Homo sapiens: one gene and its partners. The protein of the gene in region 3 purifies or fractionates together with the protein of the main gene of each other region. This does not show direct contact. Each region holds a gene or a part of one and is shown on either strand. Other genes may lie near its edges.

Region 1 (3,571 bases), on a different chromosome or scaffold from region 3:
ATGGGGTGCGGGATGAGGGAGTGGGTGGACTGTAATGTTGCAGGGACCATTGGGGGCAAGAGAAATGAGTACCTGCACAGTATTCAGAAGGGTGGTTGAGGGAATTTGGGATGTTCTGGCAGATGCTGCAGTGAAAACAGAAATGGCAGGAGGAGGGACGGGGAGAGCGTGGATTGGAAAGTTTCTGGGGTACCTGTCCAGCCATTTTTCTTCCTCTTGTTCAGACGCTGCTGGAGTTGTGGGGCATCCCTCCAAGGCCTGACTCCCTTTCACTACCTCGACTTCTCTTTCTGCTCCACACGTTGCCTCCAGGATCATCGCCGTCAGGCAGGGAGGCCCTCTTCCTGATCTCTTACAGCTCTACCTGGGGCCAACTCAGGGACCTGAGAGGGCACATTCACAGCAGCCCTAGGTTTTTTCTTCCCCGTGAAACCAGAGATGATTTGGAAGATGGGGGTGAAGGACACTCGGGAACTAGGGCAAAGACAGGGCTAGAGGTATGTGGAGCTGGTACTGTCTCTGGAATTTTAATCACAATAAAGTTTGGCAAGGAATGTGTACTTGTACTTACATTCAGAGGCACTGTGGCCTTTAGTTCCTTAGGGTCACCGTGGCCAGCACCAAGGGATCCTGCCCACTCCATGTCCCAGGTCCAAGGGTTACTTTTTTTTTTTTTTTTTTTTTTGAGATGGAGTGTCTCACTGTCAGCCAGGCTGGAGTGCAGTGGTACAACCTCCACTCACTGCAACCTCTGCCTCCTGGATTCAAGCAATTCTCCTGCCCTCAGCCTCCCAAGTAGCTGGGATTAGAGGTGCCCACCATCACGCCCGGCTAATTTTTGTATTTTTAGTGGAGACGGGGTTTCACCATGTTGGCCAGGCTGGTCTTGAAGTCCTGACCTCAGGTAATCCACCCGTCTCAGCCTCCCAAAGTGCTGGGATTACAGGCATGAGCCACCATGCCCGGCCTACCTTTCAGTGCCCACTTAACTCCATTGGTTCAGAGGCACTCAGTGTATCAGCTGAAAGGGAATTGATATGTGTCCTGTGCAAAGTACTAGTGCTATTGAGGATAGGCTTATCCAAAAATTGGACTTGGGGCTGGAGAGGTACATCTTCTAGTTCCAGCAATGTAATTTTGTTGAGGGCTCCCCTAGGAAACAGCAGGAATCTTGGCACGTAGAGGGTCTGTTGTGGCCCCTGCTTTGTCCAGTACCGGCCCAAGTTAAACCCATTGATCCAGACTTGGCCCTGGGGAATAGGGAGCAGGAAAGAGGGGAAAAGAAAGGGTCAGCTCTCCAGGGGTAGAATCATACCCTTTTGGGTTTCTAATCAGAGGATACTTTCTGCTCCCCTCCTTCTGTGATTTTTCTCTTTTACCTCCCCGCTACCCAAACCACCACCATTACCAATACCTTGGTCCATCCAGGTAGATATAGAAATGTGTCCCCAACTGAGCCTAAAATTGGAAATGTTTTGGAGTAGAATGTGGGGCCAGAAGGAGCTTGAGGATATGGCCATTTTGGCAACTGGAGGGGAAACCACCACTTCACAAGGTTATCAATTTTCAGAGGGAACATCATCCACTGGGTAAGGATTGTTTGCCCCAGAATTGGTGGCTTCAACAGGCCCTATAGGGAAGGAAAATGAAAAGTCATCATTCACTAAGCTTTGAAGCTAAGTTATCCTTAATCAAGCCCTGGGATATAACTAGGCAAAGCTAGCTCACCTTGAAGTCACTGCTGTTAGACCCAAAGCTGAGCCTCCCCATGTTCTCCACCAAGATATCCAGTTTGGACCCCAGTTTCCCCGTCAAAAATAGTTTGTCTCTCATATTTCGCTCCACAACACCCTGGAACACCTGTGGATAGGAGATAGGATAGGAGCAAGGCTCAGCATCTAGCTCTTAGCCACTGCATAGGAAACCACACATTAGGATACTTATTTGGAGGGCAGAGAGAATGTAGCCATCTATCACCCATCTATTCTAGAATTCTATCCTTAATCAAACTCTTCCTCATCCCAGCTTATCCCTGGAACCCTCTGCAAACGTGAACAGGCAGGTGGGAAAGTGTAAATATGGGGAACTTAAGGCTAACGCTTCCTGGGGAAGGGAGGAGTTTGGGGCTCACAGCCTGGAATTAGGTTCTCACCCCATCCACCATCACATAGGCACGGTCATGGACTCCATTATTTGGCACCCAGAATGGTGTTGGCTCAAAAATGGTATGGGTCATATAGGTTCGGTACAACATGAAGCCATGGTCCTGGGTATGGAAGAATGAGTACTTCAGACAAACAGAAATAAAAGAGGACACTGTGACTATAGCCAAGGAACTTTTGCGTATAGCTGTTAAGGGAGGTTGTCATCTCCACCAGATGTGGGTTTATGCCTTACCTGCTTGACAGCCTCAAAGGTCATTGGCAAGATTGAATGAATGGGCCCACGGGGGCAAAGCAAGTCTAGGAAAGCCAGTAAATGCCCAACCTATTAGAATAAGGGAGAAGAATTAGAATATCAGGGAAGTTTCTGGATAGAGGACAAGAAAGAATAGGCTATTTAGAAAAAAAAGGTGTGGTATAAGAGAAAAGATGTGGAGGAACTTACCAGGTGCAGAGTCACAGGTCCAAGCATCATCTTGGGGCTCGGGGGAGGTAAAGGTCCCAAAGGAACTTCCTGGAACTGAGCCCAGATTCTCTCAGGATCCATAGGAAAACCACAGAAAACAATACCTATTCCAAGACTCTAGGGCAGAGTTCCTAACCTGGGGCCCAGGGAAGGGCTTCAGGGATCATGGAGGCTCAATAATTTTGCACACCTGTGTGTCTTCACACATAGTCCCATTTGGTTGAATGGGAAATGCCTCAGTGGGATGCTCAGAAGGCTCTGTGGCCCAGACAATAACCACCAATTTATGGGATACCTTTACAATGTGGGCACTCCCTTCCTCCAAATTAATAAAAGCCTTTGGAGCTTAATGAAATGGTAGGGTACCTTGCTGATGACATCTCGAAGAGCAAAAAGCTTAGGTGTGGGGTCCCCTGCTTCAGATATAGGTGCATCATAGTCATAGCTGGTAGTAATCGGAAGGAAGCGTCCCTTCTTATCGGCACCTGAAGTTGAGCCAATTTAATTAATTCAACATGTATTTCAGATGACAGGCACTACTAAGCATGCTTCATGCAGAGAATTTTGCCATCAGAGGGGGCAGAGGTGGCCATATTCAGCTTCTAGACATCCTAATCCACCTGGCCCTTAGATTCTAATTCCTTGTTACCTCCCTGCTTCTATCCCAGGGACCATCTGGACTCACCATTCCAATATCCAAAGTTGGTACCTCCATGGAACATGTACCTGAAGTGAGAGAGGGTGGGGGAACAGGTAAAAGCTGACTCACTGAATCTTAACTTTCATCCCCAGCTCCCAGCTACAGATTCATATTGCCCCCAGTGTCTTTACTTACATGTTCACACTGGCTCCCAACTTGAGCATGTTCTCTAGTCCTTTGGTTACAGCTGACACAGACCGTGTGGAGTGATTCTGGCCCCAGTAATCCAGCCAGCCTGTGTAG
Region 2 (3,897 bases), on a different chromosome or scaffold from region 3:
CCCACCTAGGCTGGGTGTCTAAAGTAGGTGAGGTCATCACTGCAGGATCCTTGGGGCCTGACCTGCCCCCTCCCACGTGTCTCTGCCTCAGTTTCTCTGAGCATTGAGGCAGTGGCTGGTGCTGTCCTGTGGCCAGGCCCAGAGGCTGAGTGCCCAGGGGGTCCAGGGGCCTTGCTGGCCAGAGAGAGTGGGTAGCCCATTCTACCCCGAGCCTGTGCACGCGCAGGGCTGCCAACACCTCCTTCCTTCCCCGCTTGGCCCACGCAGGACAGGGGGCGTGGGGGCCCCAGCAACTGGGACCTGCCTGAATCCGCCTCCCTCCTGAACCCCCCTCCCGCCTGAACCCCTGGCCAGTCTTGTGTCACACGCTTACTTCCTTAGTTTTGTCTTTAAATCAGCCGTTTTACATTGGAGTCCATTTACTGGGAAAGGAGACCTTGCATCCTTGCCTCCCACCCGTGGGAAGAAGCCCGGCCGACAGGGCTTTGAGACCGGACCCGAGTTTATTCCCAGAGACCCTCCCGCGGGTGGGCGAGCTCCGAGGTCTGGAGAAGAGGAGGCCCCGGCCCGCACCCTCTAGCACCTGTGTCCCCTTCGTCCCGGCCACAGATGCAGGTTCTCCCAAGAGGCGGGTCTGTACCCGCCCCGCGCCCCCAGCCCAGCGGGCCCGGCCTCCGCCCCTGCCCCGCACTCCCACCCCCACCCTCAGGAGAGCGCGGCCCTGCTCCCCACCCCGCGCGGTCTCCCCCCACCGCCTGCGAACCCCCATGCACGCGCGGCCCCGCCCCGCGCACTCACCAGGCCCGGCAGCCGCGCGGTCTTAGCGGCTCACGCGCTCGGGCCCAGGGGCGGGGACGTGGGGACCCGGGCGGCCGCTCAGCCGCGGCCGCGCGGTGAATGAGCCCGTTGTGCGGCCGCCGCGGCCCCAGCGACACCCCGCGCGGGGTCTACAAGGGCTGACGCGCCCCCGCGGCTTCCGTTCCCGGGCTGGGCGGTGGCTCGTCTGCGTCTCCGGCCCTGGGGGTGGGCTGCGCGCTCCATCTCGCCGGCCCAGTCCCCTCCCCAGCGTCGGTCTCTCAAGGCCCCTCCCAATGGGGGCCAGGCGGAGGGTGGGCCCTCGGGCCTGTGGACTGACCCCGGGGTTCCTGGGCCTGGGGGCGGGGATCCCTGTCCCGGGCTCCCCTCGCTGCGAGGCTGGCCCTGCCAGATGACACTCAGAGGCGCCTTGGGTGTCAGGCCAGGGACATCTCTGATGCTGGGGCTCCCCCCGCTAGGGTCAGGGGCTGCCGGGCTATCGCCTTGGGGTTCTGCAGAGAAAACCTGAAGCCCAGCTGGGTCTTCACTTTCCTCCAGGTCACCGTGCCCCGCTACTCCAACTCCGTGGGACTTTGGAATGCACCTTCTGGGCATTTAATTCTTATCCAAGTGCCTCTTAAGTTATACTTCTTTGCTACCAGTGTGTCCTTTGGATGGAGGGGAGGAGAGGTGGTAGGGGCCGGGTGGGGTGGACCCCAGGGACTCCTGCTGCTCCTGCTGGACACCCAGCCCGGGGTACAGGAGCAGGTGGGGACCAGCAGAGGCGGGGCGGAGCAGGAGCCCACACCCAAAGGCTGTAGACTCCTGCCAAGGCTCTGCCTTGATCTTGTACACCATGGGAGGACCAGAAGGGAGGCGTTGAGGTGTCCAGACCTTTGCTGTGGAGCTGGGGGTGCTGTGGCATGGGGAGACTGACAGACGGGGAGCTGTATAGGGCCAGATTCCGGTCCATGGTGGTAACCCCATCCCCCACCACTGCAGATGCGGCACAAAGCCAGCTGCCACAGGAGGTGCACTGCCCCACGGGCAGCTGTGCTCACCTGCGTGGCGTCCGCAGGAAGCCCTCAGACCCTGGCCAGCCTGGTCTCTGCTTCTCACTCCAGGCTCAAGGCTGGCTGCTATTCCATTCACCCCATTCCCTTTCCCTCAGGCCAGAAGCATCACTCACAACTCCAGACCCTTGCACACCAATCTCCTCACTCAGTTCACCCTCAGATGTCCAACTCCACATGGCCAAAACCGAGACCAGTCTCACTCCAAGCTCATCCACCCGCCTAGCTGCCCAAGCTGAAATCCACAGTTGCCCTGTACGACCCCCCGACCCCCCACCTCACCCCCCAGCTCACCTCAAACCTCATCAGTCCCTCTGCTCACAGCCTGCACAGCCACCACCCAGTCTGGGCACCATACCTCTCTGGGCAACCCCCATGGCCCCCAGCCAGTCTTCCAGCTCCCACCCTGACTCCAGTGAGCTGCCAGAGGGATCCTTGAAAAATGCTCTGGAAGCCAAGGTGGGCGGATCACGAGGTCAGGAAATGGAAACCATCCTGGCTAACATGGTGAAACTCCGTCTCTACTAAAAATACAAAAAAATTAGCCGGGCGTGGTGGCGGGCGCCTGTAGTCCCAGCTACTCAGGAGGCTGAGGCAGGAGAATGGTGTGAACCCGGGAGGGGGAGCTTGCAGTGAGCCGAGATCGCGCCACTGCACCCCAGGCTGGGCAACAGAGTGAGACTCTGTCTCAAAAAAAAAAAAAAGAAAAAAGAAAAATGCCCTGGCACTGCTCAGCTCAGAACCTTGAAAGGGATCCTTGTTTCGCTCTGGGTCAGGGTCCCATCCTCAAAGCAGTCACTTCCAGAGCCCCATGGAGCCTCATATCCCATGATATCCACCCTTATTCTGTCTCAGGCCCACCAGCTGCCTCCCTGCTGCCTGATTGTCATGTGTGCATTCCTGTTCCAGAGCCTTTGCACTGGCGATGCCATCTGCTGCCTGGATGTCTTCCTGCTGGCTGGTCCCGTTGCATGGTAGCCTTAGGTGTCTCCTCAGAGAGGTCCCTCGCTGACCATCAGGCTCCTCACTCCCTGTCGTATCCCCTTCACCAAAGATTCCCATTCCCTGACGACGCCTGTCCCCTCGGAATGCAGGCCTCGTGGGAATTCAGCCCATCCGCAAGTGCAGTGGCAGGGCGGCCCCCTTCCCCCTTGACGACGCCTGTCCCCTTGGAATGCAGGCCTCGTGGGAATTCAGCCCATCTGCAAGTGCAGTGGCAGGGCGGCCCCCTTCTCCCTTGAGGACGCCTGTCCCCTCGTAATGCAGGCCTCGTGGGAATTCAGCCCATCTGCAAGTGCAGTGGCAGGGCGGCCCCCTTCTCCCTTGAGGACGCCTGTCCCCTCGTAATGCAGGCCTCGTGGGAATTCAGCCCATCTGCAAGTGCAGTGGCAGGGCGGCCCCCTTCTCCCTTGAGGACGCCTGTCCCCTCGGAATGCAGGCCTCGTGGGAATTCAGCCCCATCTGCAAGTGCAGTGGCAGGGCGGCCCCCTTCTCCCTTGACGACGCCTGTCCCCTCGGAATGCAGGCCTCGTGGGAATTCAGCCCCATCGGCAAGTGCAGTGGCAGGGCGGCCCCCTTCACCCTTGACGACGCCTGTCCCCTCGGAATGCAGGCCTCATGGGAATTCAGCCCATCTGCAAGTGCAGTGGCAGGGTGGCCCCCTTCTCCCTTTCCTGTGCACTCATGTTGCCTCTTGGGGTGTGGGAGGGGAAATGGGGCACTCCTGGGCCTCCAGGAGGTGCAGAGAACCAGGGTGAGGTGTCCACCAGGTCCTGCCTGGCTCCTGACCCCTGGCCCCTGCTGCTCGCGACTGGCCTGCCTCGTGCCACTGAGCCTCAGAGCCATTCCGAACCCCCACCCCAAGTTTTCCATCTCTTGATGGTGTAGGGTTGGGGGGTCTCCATGTACAGATACTCTAGTTCATACCAGGCCTTCATAGGGTTATTTTCCAAGGGGAAGGGCCCCTCGGGAAGCCGGGATCGGAGTCCTGTGTGGCACCTTGCAGGCTCCCACATGCTCCGTTGTGGCC
Region 3 (3,823 bases):
TTGTTCTCCCTCTTCCTCCTGCATAGCAGTCAGTCTCCTCCAAACAGAAAGTCACCGGTTTGGACTTCATTCCTGGGCTCCACCCCATCCTGACCTTATCCAAGATGGACCAGACACTGGCAGTCTACCAACAGATCCTCACCAGTATGCCTTCCAGAAACGTGATCCAAATATCCAACGACCTGGAGAACCTCCGGGATCTTCTTCACGTGCTGGCCTTCTCTAAGAGCTGCCACTTGCCCTGGGCCAGTGGCCTGGAGACCTTGGACAGCCTGGGGGGTGTCCTGGAAGCTTCAGGCTACTCCACAGAGGTGGTGGCCCTGAGCAGGCTGCAGGGGTCTCTGCAGGACATGCTGTGGCAGCTGGACCTCAGCCCTGGGTGCTGAGGCCTTGAAGGTCACTCTTCCTGCAAGGACTACGTTAAGGGAAGGAACTCTGGCTTCCAGGTATCTCCAGGATTGAAGAGCATTGCATGGACACCCCTTATCCAGGACTCTGTCAATTTCCCTGACTCCTCTAAGCCACTCTTCCAAAGGCATAAGACCCTAAGCCTCCTTTTGCTTGAAACCAAAGATATATACACAGGATCCTATTCTCACCAGGAAGGGGGTCCACCCAGCAAAGAGTGGGCTGCATCTGGGATTCCCACCAAGGTCTTCAGCCATCAACAAGAGTTGTCTTGTCCCCTCTTGACCCATCTCCCCCTCACTGAATGCCTCAATGTGACCAGGGGTGATTTCAGAGAGGGCAGAGGGGTAGGCAGAGCCTTTGGATGACCAGAACAAGGTTCCCTCTGAGAATTCCAAGGAGTTCCATGAAGACCACATCCACACACGCAGGAACTCCCAGCAACACAAGCTGGAAGCACATGTTTATTTATTCTGCATTTTATTCTGGATGGATTTGAAGCAAAGCACCAGCTTCTCCAGGCTCTTTGGGGTCAGCCAGGGCCAGGGGTCTCCCTGGAGTGCAGTTTCCAATCCCATAGATGGGTCTGGCTGAGCTGAACCCATTTTGAGTGACTCGAGGGTTGGGTTCATCTGAGCAAGAGCTGGCAAAGGTGGCTCTCCAGTTAGTTCTCTCGTAACTGGTTTCATTTCTACTGTGACTGATGTTACATCACAGTGTTTGCAATGGTGTTGCCCTGAGTGGATCTCCAAGGACCAGGTTATTTTAAAAAGATTTGTTTTGTCAAGTGTCATATGTAGGTGTCTGCACCCAGGGGTGGGGAATGTTTGGGCAGAAGGGAGAAGGATCTAGAATGTGTTTTCTGAATAACATTTGTGTGGTGGGTTCTTTGGAAGGAGTGAGATCATTTTCTTATCTTCTGCAATTGCTTAGGATGTTTTTCATGAAAATAGCTCTTTCAGGGGGGTTGTGAGGCCTGGCCAGGCACCCCCTGGAGAGAAGTTTCTGGCCCTGGCTGACCCCAAAGAGCCTGGAGAAGCTGATGCTTTGCTTCAAATCCATCCAGAATAAAACGCAAAGGGCTGAAAGCCATTTGTTGGGGCAGTGGTAAGCTCTGGCTTTCTCCGACTGCTAGGGAGTGGTCTTTCCTATCATGGAGTGACGGTCCCACACTGGTGACTGCGATCTTCAGAGCAGGGGTCCTTGGTGTGACCCTCTGAATGGTCCAGGGTTGATCACACTCTGGGTTTATTACATGGCAGTGTTCCTATTTGGGGCTTGCATGCCAAATTGTAGTTCTTGTCTGATTGGCTCACCCAAGCAAGGCCAAAATTACCAAAAATCTTGGGGGGTTTTTACTCCAGTGGTGAAGAAAACTCCTTTAGCAGGTGGTCCTGAGACCTGACAAGCACTGCTAGGCGAGTGCCAGGACTCCCCAGGCCAGGCCACCAGGATGGCCCTTCCCACTGGAGGTCACATTCAGGAAGATGAAAGAGGAGGTTTGGGGTCTGCCACCATCCTGCTGCTGTGTTTTTGCTATCACACAGTGGGTGGTGGATCTGTCCAAGGAAACTTGAATCAAAGCAGTTAACTTTAAGACTGAGCACCTGCTTCATGCTCAGCCCTGACTGGTGCTATAGGCTGGAGAAGCTCACCCAATAAACATTAAGATTGAGGCCTGCCCTCAGGGATCTTGCATTCCCAGTGGTCAAACCGCACTCACCCATGTGCCAAGGTGGGGTATTTACCACAGCAGCTGAACAGCCAAATGCATGGTGCAGTTGACAGCAGGTGGGAAATGGTATGAGCTGAGGGGGGCCGTGCCCAGGGGCCCACAGGGAACCCTGCTTGCACTTTGTAACATGTTTACTTTTCAGGGCATCTTAGCTTCTATTATAGCCACATCCCTTTGAAACAAGATAACTGAGAATTTAAAAATAAGAAAATACATAAGACCATAACAGCCAACAGGTGGCAGGACCAGGACTATAGCCCAGGTCCTCTGATACCCAGAGCATTACGTGAGCCAGGTAATGAGGGACTGGAACCAGGGAGACCGAGCGCTTTCTGGAAAAGAGGAGTTTCGAGGTAGAGTTTGAAGGAGGTGAGGGATGTGAATTGCCTGCAGAGAGAAGCCTGTTTTGTTGGAAGGTTTGGTGTGTGGAGATGCAGAGGTAAAAGTGTGAGCAGTGAGTTACAGCGAGAGGCAGAGAAAGAAGAGACAGGAGGGCAAGGGCCATGCTGAAGGGACCTTGAAGGGTAAAGAAGTTTGATATTAAAGGAGTTAAGAGTAGCAAGTTCTAGAGAAGAGGCTGGTGCTGTGGCCAGGGTGAGAGCTGCTCTGGAAAATGTGACCCAGATCCTCACAACCACCTAATCAGGCTGAGGTGTCTTAAGCCTTTTGCTCACAAAACCTGGCACAATGGCTAATTCCCAGAGTGTGAAACTTCCTAAGTATAAATGGTTGTCTGTTTTTGTAACTTAAAAAAAAAAAAAAAAGTTTGGCCGGGTGCGGTGGCTCACGCCTGTAATCCCAGCACTTTGGGAGGCCAAGGTGGGGGGATCACAAGGTCACTAGATGGCGAGCATCCTGGCCAACATGGTGAAACCCCGTCTCTACTAAAAACACAAAAGTTAGCTGAGCGTGGTGGCGGGCGCCTGTAGTCCCAGCCACTCGGGAGGCTGAGACAGGAGAATCGCTTAAACCTGGGAGGCGGAGAGTACAGTGAGCCAAGATCGCGCCACTGCACTCCGGCCTGATGACAGAGCGAGATTCCGTCTTAAAAAAAAAAAAAAAAAAGTTTGTTTTTAAAAAAATCTAAATAAAATAACTTTGCCCCCTGCTCTTTGTTTCCTGTCGCCGTTCCTGGAGGGGCTTCGGGAGAGCTGTTTGTGTGTGACAGGGCAAGGCCTGGCTGGCCCCCATCCATCACTGGGGTCAGCTCCGCCCCAGGCTTGGCCACAGCCAGCCGCCAGTTATTCAGGCAAAAGGATTACCCTGTAAAGAAAACAGAGCTGGGTTTGGACGCTGAGAGGACTGGGAAACAGGTTGCAGGGAGGCACAGGAAGCACACACCAAGAGCCAGAGAGAGGCCTCTGTGCCATCCCAAGGAATGAGGACAAAGAGAGGGGTCCTCGGGAAGAAGGGATCCACTTTGGAGAGGCCCCTTAACACGGGACAGAGCAAGGACAGAAAGAGGCATCCACTGGGATGGAAGAAGGACAGGATCCACAGGGAAAGAGGGATGAGGGGAATGAAGAGAGAAGAAATAAAGAGTTCAGCATCACCTCATGATGCAACTAATTTGGCACAATGCCCAGCACAATGTACCCCTCCATTCTGATTTGGTGGCCAGAAGAATTGAGATTCTTGGGCCAGGCACGATGGCTCATGCCTATAATCCCAGCACTTTGG
Region 4 (2,610 bases), on a different chromosome or scaffold from region 3:
TAAAGTCTTGCAGTGAGACTCAGAGTCTCAGGCTTCAGAGACCACTGCGCCTGTTCTTGGGGCCAGTGCAAACTACTATTTCCAAGCATTCCCAGAAAAGGAGCTCAGGCTTTCTTACCACTTTTCTTGTGCCCACCCAGGGTTGACAATGTGAGATGATTATAGTCTGCCCTCTGTGTTCCCAAGTACCCTGTCTGCTTCATAAACACACATTCCAACAAACACATTAATTATCACCAGCTGTGGCTCTCACCAGAGGCATATTGAGTCAGTTACTCACCTATGGTCTCCACAATCTCCGCCTGGAGGTGGGGCTCCAGGTGTTCCATCGTAATTTCTTCCCGGGACCATCCAGCCTTGAGCAACTTTAGGACCACCTCATTGATTATATCGCCCCTGAGATTACTGAAAGAGACAAGAGCTTGTTAACCCATTTGTTTATATTTAGCTTCCATATATGTTATCTCACCGCTGAAACCAATGCATTAGTGCCTGGAAGAATAGAGGCTGAGGGGCGTGGACCTTCTCTCTCTTCCAGGAGACCTTGTCACAACCTCACAACCCAAAGGTCTGCACAGAAAAGACACTGTCCAGTTTTGCCACCCATTCTCTCTTGTTCCCTCTTGACACACACTTACTGAGACTGTGCTAAGTGCAGGGAGCATGAAAAGATGGTAAGATATGGTTCTTCTGTGTGGTCTGAGGGGCATCCGTGTATTCGGTTCCAGGACAGTGTGGCAAGCGCTAATGGAGGAGTGACTGAGTTCTAAGGAGAAGGCTTCAGAGGGAGGATGAGGCTTCTGAGCAAATAAAGACCAAGTAGTGATCATCAGACACTTGGCAAGGAAGGGAAGTGTCTAGGCCTGGGTGCGCCAGAGGAGCACAGGCATGAAAGGCTGGCTAAGGTGAGGAGGGCTTTGTCTGCCATTTGCATGGACTTGAGCTTATGGATCATGGAGAAGGGATGGAAAGGAGGATTTAAGAATTAGTTATGGAGGCACAATTGAAAAACCCTGTAACTGATGGATGTGAGAAGTGAAAGGAGGTCATCAAAGAACAAGCGTTAGCCTCAAGCTGCTTGCTGTCCCCCTTAACAGAGGTGGAACACGGAAAGGTGGAGATGAAAGTTTGGTTTTACACACGTTTGAGTGTTTTTTGCTTGCCTGTGATCTCTCTCAGGTTGTGATATCACTGGGCAACTGGAATTACGGGTCTGAAGCACAGAAAGTGATTTGGGTTAGAGATAGGAGGGAGAAAGGGGATAAGGAGAGAAGATGCAACCGTAGAGCCACCAGCAGGGAAGCTGGGACAGAGGTAGTGGAGACTTGGCCTTCCTCCGCCCTCCACGGCCCAGGCATACTTCTCCCCCACCTCACTGCACTCTCCTCCCCTCCCTGGGCTGCAGCCTCAGCCAGCTCCACCAGCTCCTTAAACCAAGTCCTTGCCCAGCTCCACATCAATGCACTTGCACTTCCCCGTGCTTTCTCTCTTTTTGGAGACAGTCTCATTCTGTCACCCAGATTGGAGTACAGTGGCGTGATTTTGGCTCACTGCAGCCTCCACCTCCCCAGGCTCAGCTGATCCTCTCACCTCAGCCTCCTAAGTAGCTGAGACTGCAGGTACATGCCACCCTACCCAGCTATTTTTTTTTTTCTTGAGACAGAGTTTCACTCTTGTTGCCCAGGCTGGAGTGCAGTGGCGTGATCTCAGCTCACAGCAGCCTCTGCCTCCCGGATTCAAGAGATTCTCCTGCCTCAGCCTCCCAAGTAGCTGGGATTACAGGCACATGCCACAATGCCCAGCTAATTTTTTTAGTAGAGACAGGGTTTCACCATGTTGGCCAGGCTGGTCTCAAACTCCTGACCTCAGCTGATCTGCCCGCCTCCCAAAGTGCTAGGATGACAGGTGTGCCCGGCCCTATTTTTAAAATTTTTTTGTAGAGACGAGGTCTCACTATGTTCCCTAGGCTGGTCTCAAACTCCTAGGCTCAAGTGATTCTCCCACCTCAGTCTCCCAAAGTGTTGGGATGACAGGCATGAGCCACTAGGCCTAGCCTCCCTTGCATTTTCCTCAGGTCCAGCAGAATGAGGGAGGGTAAAGGACAGGGAAGGCAGGTGGCAGGTTAAGGAGTGGGGAACCAGTATCTCCATCTCTTTCCCTCCTTACCCAGCTCTGAAAGCCCCCATGACACCTACCAGTATATTAGCTCACATCTTTGCTCATTTAGCCTGTGACCACACCCTGTTGACTAGGCTCCATGGGGGCTGCTGGGAAATGAGGGGAGCTGTGTGGTTCTCTCCCTCCCTGCCTCCACCATTGCGTAGAGGCTAAGGCTGGGCAGGCGTCCTTCCCTGCCACGCAGGTTAAGCCCGGACAGCCAAGTTGTCTAGCTAGGTGCCTCATTGTAGGGGGAGGTGCTAATGTGTCTTTCACTGCCAGAATTTACCAGGGGCTGAGAGCTCCCAGCTGGAGGAGCCCGGCAGGAACAAGGGCCATCTGCAGTGCTTGCTCAAGGTCAGTTGCTCAGCCAGGCTTTCCCCGGGGAAGCTGCTCACACCACTCTTCCACTTTCTGACACTGCCCCTGCTGCAGGAAGGCCTTCCAGGCACA

What was found.
Region 1: the proteins of LEP (region 3) and GLB1L purify together in Homo sapiens (affinity purification with mass spectrometry; one large-scale study listed by BioGRID and IntAct). This does not show direct contact.
Region 2: the proteins of LEP (region 3) and IDUA purify together in Homo sapiens (affinity purification with mass spectrometry; one large-scale study listed by BioGRID and IntAct). This does not show direct contact.
Region 4: the proteins of LEP (region 3) and TOR3A purify together in Homo sapiens (affinity purification with mass spectrometry; one large-scale study listed by BioGRID and IntAct). This does not show direct contact.

What each region holds. Positions count from the first base shown.
Region 1 is NC_000002.12:219,236,098-219,239,668, forward strand, and holds the end of GLB1L (beta-galactosidase-1-like protein isoform 1 precursor), read right to left. Parts: coding exon 3,464-3,571; intron 3,355-3,463; coding exon 3,314-3,354; intron 3,114-3,313; coding exon 2,995-3,113; intron 2,683-2,994; coding exon 2,608-2,682; intron 2,488-2,607; coding exon 2,398-2,487; intron 2,267-2,397; coding exon 2,153-2,266; intron 1,861-2,152; coding exon 1,729-1,860; intron 1,631-1,728; coding exon 1,415-1,630; intron 1,251-1,414; coding exon 975-1,250; 3' UTR 501-974; downstream 1-500. Other genes in the region: tRNA endonuclease ANKZF1, read left to right, coding at 225-348.
Region 2 is NC_000004.12:996,647-1,000,543, forward strand, and holds part of IDUA (alpha-L-iduronidase isoform a precursor), read left to right. Parts: intron 1-1,718; coding exon of another isoform or gene 1,719-2,343; intron 2,344-2,777; coding exon of another isoform or gene 2,778-3,109; exon of another isoform or gene 3,110-3,418; intron 3,419-3,897. Other genes in the region: uncharacterized protein LOC124900646, read left to right, coding at 1,719-2,343, 2,778-3,109.
Region 3 is NC_000007.14:128,254,378-128,258,200, forward strand, and holds the end of LEP (leptin precursor), read left to right. Parts: intron 1-26; coding exon 27-386; 3' UTR 387-3,252; downstream 3,253-3,823. UniProt on the Homo sapiens protein: Key player in the regulation of energy balance and body weight control. Once released into the circulation, has central and peripheral effects by binding LEPR, found in many tissues, which results in the activation of several major signaling pathways.
Region 4 is NC_000001.11:179,091,888-179,094,497, reverse strand, and holds part of TOR3A (torsin-3A precursor), read right to left. Parts: intron 406-2,610; coding exon 281-405; intron 1-280.